2 separate regions of the Homo sapiens genome follow, and region 1 is linked to region 2. The links come from fine-mapping of genetic effects on gene expression. Tissue or cell type: whole blood. Region 2 holds a variant in brackets; the other region holds the start of a gene. All regions are shown on one strand. Distances are from middle to middle.

What was found. PIP is the estimated chance that this variant, and not a neighbour inherited with it, causes the effect.
Region 1: it holds the start of CWF19L2, and the variant in region 2 is fine-mapped to the expression of CWF19L2 in whole blood (INTERVAL, PIP above 0.99). The same link has a PIP of 0.9 or more in NK cells, lymphoblastoid cells, monocytes, monocytes after LPS, monocytes after interferon gamma and skeletal muscle.

The regions. Positions count from the first base shown.
Region 1 is chr11:107,456,399-107,459,083 of GRCh38, forward strand. CWF19L2 (CWF19 like cell cycle control factor 2) reads right to left here and starts at 1,427. Exons shown (of 18, transcript NM_152434.3): 1 at 1,314-1,427. The coding sequence starts at 1,418. RefSeq lists an enhancer at 1,206-1,711.
Region 2 is chr11:107,268,488-107,271,172 of GRCh38, forward strand. All of the region lies in intron 1 of LOC105369477 (a long non-coding RNA gene), which reads right to left. Among named protein-coding and RNA genes, the nearest start is that of CWF19L2, 190 kb to the right of the region's middle. The variant G/T (reference allele first, on the strand shown) is at 1,179.

The DNA.
Region 1 (2,685 bases), 190 kb after region 2:
ACTTACTCCCTCCAAAAACTGCTGGAAATACCAAAGAGAAAAGAATGAATAATATATATATACCCACACACACACATTACATATGTTGAAATTACGAAACAATACCAACATTTCACCTACCCAAGACTAATCGCCCACTCTTCCCCTTTAAAACCTGGCTGTAGTCATTTTCTTTTTTTTTTTAATCAAATATAAAAATAATTTATTAAAGGTTTATATCAGAGAACTGCTGAAGCAACAAGAACTAGAAGAGTTAATATTCCAGAAAAGGGAAAATCATGGAGAGGTAGTCCAACATTCTGCAGCTAGCTTTTCCCTGGGTGCATATAATAATTCTTGGTGTAGGCAAGAAGATGAATACAATGGTTATATACCAAACAGAAAAATCGATATCAGAGAAAAGAGCAGGGCTTATGATGGACTCCAAAGAACAGGGTGAGAAAATTGGAGATTAAAGGAGAATGGGGCTGCTTCACCCTCAAATTATTTGCCAAATTTTGAAACTATGTCATTTTCCCTTTAGAGTCTCCTCTCCCTCTTCTCTGCTGGCTCCTTCTCATTTGCATTTAAACTTGTTTAAAACTCTTCCAACTTAAATAAAAACAAAAACCCTCACTGAATTCTCTGTTGCTCTCCAACTGCAACTTTTCTCTTTCATTGCCACACTTCTTACATATTGAATAGATTGTCAGATAATTCAGAAGCTTACTTTCTCCATTCTTTGTATGTTACCTCTATGTATCTGAAGTTTAGTGAGAAATACAATGTTTCGCGATCTTTTGTGACAGGCTAAATATACTGAGATTGGTGTTAACTTTTGTTTGGATTGGTAAGAGCTTACAGTAAGTCTGGAATTGATACCAATAGAGACAGGAGGAGGAAATGTCAAACTGAGTCTATTCAAGTGTGACTTGAATGTGTTTCCGAAAAAGGAAAATCTCATTTCAGATACAGCAGTAGCAATGACTGAGGCTGCGAGACATGCTGGCAGAGTCCTTACAAGCCGCAGGGGACCTACAAAGTGTGCAGTCCGAGTGATAGAAATGTAAAGAATGGGTAACTTAAAAGGTAAAGAAACTTGGAGAAAAAGCGACAGATCTGCCTGAAAAGAGAATTAGCAACTGGCACCTGCCAGAACATCTAAAAAATCGGTAGCTACAAAAGGGTTTACCGGCATTGCAAAGGGAGAACTCACCCAAATTAAGGTGAGATTCAGTACTGACGAGGTAAGGGAAGGGGTGAGTGGGCTAGCTTACGGGAACCCTCAACTCCCACAACAATAAATAACTACAAAAGCCCCAAAACAGAGGTACCTGGCGCAACACCTCGGCCCTGGCATTCCGGGTCTGTTCTTTCCGCTCTTCGATACTCTTCGCACTTTCAAATCTACCACTAGCAGCCGCCATACTTGTTGCCATCGTAAAGCTAAGAAGCCGCAAGAAAATTCTAGTTTACGACGGTCGTAATTTAACAAACAAACCGGGACTTCCGGACCCGAGGAAGGAGGAGCACGGCTCCACCAACAGGGCATGCGCACATCTGAGGTCGCTTAGGGCTCGGATTACCGCAGCCCAGATTTTAAAGACCCGAAGGGTGTTGGAGGGTTTAATTCTTTCAGGTGTTGGGTGCGATTGTGAGCAGGATTAATACCCGTATATATTTATTATGCACTTTTTACTATATTAACAGCTTTCTCACCAATTTCGTCTTAAAATCACCGGAGTAAGTTACAAGCTCTTGGAAGTTAAGTTGGTACCTCTCAAAAGTTTTCTGCGGAAGTACCCTTTGTCGCCAGAGCATCATTTCCCTGTGCTGGAGGAATGGGATAAAGGGAGGCTGCCAGAAAGGTAGTGGCAGCTGGCAGGAAGGACAGAATTGCCTTGAAGATTCAGTGTTTTGTTTTGGTGGATTTTACTTAATATATGAAACACTCATGTGAATTTTGCATTGCACTTCACAATTTACCCGTGCTTAACTTGTTAGAAGTTTACATTATATTTTTTCCTCTGACCCCATATTATTTACTCATACTTATCCATCCAAGCATTTTTCATTACAATGGACAGTTACTTATTTATTTCTGCGGAGATTTCTTTGTTTTGTTTTACGCATGTATCGCCCAAACATAAAACTTTTAAGTTCAGAAGAATAAGACATTCTAAGGTGATGAAGTGCTTTGAGAACATAAGACACTAAGCTTACATTTACAAGAAGAAGAAGGCTGGGGAATTAATTATAAACGATACCTTAAAGACGCTAAAAATAAGTAACATAAGCCAGGTTGAGGTAAATACTCTTTCTCTTCAGGTTTCATAAAATTTAATGTGTGTTTGCAAGAAGCTTTCCAAGAGTTTTTACATTCACTACCATTCTATGAGTCTGAATCTTGAACACACAATGCCTACTTGTTTGATATGCAATAGAAAGTATTCATTTTATTTTAAAATGTAATTTACTAATCGACCTTGTAATATTTAATCAACTGACTACATTGACTGATATTTGTCATAACTAGCATCAACGTCTTTTCAGATTCTCTTGGAATTCAGAAAAACATCCATTTCACTGTTTTGCATCAATTCAATAAAAATAAACTGTGATTATATTAGAAACGTGTGTGTTTTAATCAGTTCAGGCTGCTATAACAAAATATTATAGAATGGATGGCTTATAAATAACAAACAA
Region 2 (2,685 bases):
GATTCTCCTGCCTCAGCCTTTCAAGTAGCTGGGATTACAGGCACGCACCACCACACCCAGCTAATTTTGTATTTTTAGTAGAGATGGGGTTTCACCATGTTGGTCAGGCTGGTCTCAAACTCCTGACCTCAGGTGATCCACCCGCCTTGGCCTCCCAAAGTGCTGGCATTACAGGCATAAGCCATCACGTCCAGCCTAGCTTAATCTTTTCTAAGATCAATACCATCTTTCTGGTGAACTTTGTCTCCAAGCACTGCAAAGCACTGCATCTAATTCAAAGATTCTATGTCTTTGGTGAAGAAGGCCAGCATTGTTGACCTAAGTCTGTAGTATCTGAGTTAGGAACAAGACCTAGTTTCCTCACGCCTGGATGTGAGGTTTATCTTTACATGAGAGCAAGGGACGTTTATGTAATCCTCATTAGTGCGGATGGCTGTTCTGACTCCAACAGCCAGTGCATCATTGCAAGAACAGTTGCTTTAATCTCTAAAGAAAACACCAAATAAAATGCATTTTTTTAAATCAAGGAAATAAGGTTCCGTCAATGCATATTGTCCAAGTGACAAAGGATTTCAGACAGCTACGTAATTAGCCTCTAATAGCAATATACATGAGAATGCAATTTACTTTTCATCATTCTTGTTCGGGTCATGAATTGAAATCACAGTAGGAGCACAAGGCTGTCAGGGATAAAGCAAAGGAAGAAAACAGGACTTGGCTGCTGGGAATATTCACACCCAGCCAAGAAAACATGCCAAATGAGGCTTAAAATGAACTTTTCCTGTGTGCATTTCACAAGTTCAGACCAAGAGGAAAAACAATTCTTCCCCTCCCCTACCCCCACTTTAATACTTTAACCATTGGGTGAAATATACCATAGTCACATGTATACTGTCTGATTGTGATCCTATACCCTGCACTAGGGGATCTGTCAAATATTCAGTGGACAAGTAGAAGAGAACTGAATTGGGAATCTGAAGACCAGAGACTTAGTTTTTGTTCTGTTACTGACCAGTGGTCGACCTTGGGAAAATTACAACCTCTCGGAGCTTCAGTTTTATCATCTGTTAAATGAAGATAATACGTGACCTGCCTATCTCATCCAGCTATTATAAATCATGTTTTCTCTTCATAGTCAAGCCTCTAGAAAAATTGAGTAGTCACAATCTTGACTTCTT[G/T]ACCTTTCATTTACTCCCCAACCCAAAACTGACCCTCCACTGAAATGCTAAGACCACTGCTGTCAAATCTAACAAATTCTCAAATGCTTTTCAACCTTTCAATTAATCTCAGATTCTTTTGACAGTGTTAAATGTCACTGTTTTAAAACTTCCACCGCGATTGACTTTCATAACAGCATCCTCTCCATTCTCCTCTTTAATAATAGTGTTCTCCATGGCTTTGTCCTTGGCCTTTATTTTTTTTCACTATCACCATCTCTTCCATTATCTCATCCAGGCTATGGTTTCAACTACTTACCGTGAGTTGATGCTCCTATTTATCTACAGGATCACCCCTCTCCTGAGGTCCATTCTGCTCTTGGAAATATCCTCCAGAACTCCTTAGAGCTCTGAAAATTCAAAAACTCTAAAACCAATTCATTTGGTTCATCCCTCCTGACCACACTTCAAACCACTTCTCTTCCTGTGTTCCCTTCACCCATCCAAAATCTGGGACTCAACCTTGACCTGTTTTCAAAATTCTATCTCCAAAATATTTCTCAAATGTGTCTCTTACCTACTATTGCCACTATCTTGGTCCAGATCTTTTTCATCTCTTGACAGCATTGCAAATGCCTATAAACTAACCTCCCTTCTCTAATGTCAGGTCCTTCTGTGGCATCCTCCACATGGGTGTCAATGTGGGCTTTCTAAGCAACAATTTATCTCTCTTCCCTACCTTTAGATCTTTAATGATTCCCACTACACACAGATAAAATCCTAACTTTTGAATATAAAACAGATGTCCCTTTATGTACTGGGTCCTTCCCACCTTGCCAGTATCAGTTCTTGGATCTCCTTCATTGTCACCTTATTTACAGCCACCCCCAAATCCTTGTCATCTCCATTTGCTATATGAAAACTTGGTGATTTTGCACTGGGTTGCTCCTCTCTGGAATGTTTTCCCTTCTTTCCTGCTGATTGAAAAGATTATTCATCCATCAGGACTCAGCTCCCATGTATCCTTTCTTATTAAACAGCCCCTGACCTTCCTCCTGCTCCCATCTTCCTTAGGTAATTTAATTTCCTTCACAATAGCTTGTGCACACCTTTATTCTAACATGTCACCCCAGACTGCAGTTATCTCATTATCTGACCTTTTCTGAGGGTAGGAAAATCAAGTCTTGCCTGTATTTGTAATATAACGTGCATCACAACAAGGCTTCAGTAATTTCTAGATCTGACCCCTGCCATTTGCTTCAAATGATCAAGCATTCACCTAATCTCCCGGGTTTATTCAACCTATTATCTCCCTCCTAGATCCTCATCTCTCTGTCTAGCCTTCTTGAACCAATAATCCAATTGGATAATCTGCCCAGGTTTGATGTAGGTTAGTCCAAGGCAGCTGGCTGTGAATTCTCCTATTCAGCTCCATGTTCTGAGAGGGGGTTATGTCAGCTGGTCCCAGGTTCCTAGGAGGGCAGCCCAGGTACAGCACCATGAGCACCCATCTGTCAGGTGTGAGAGA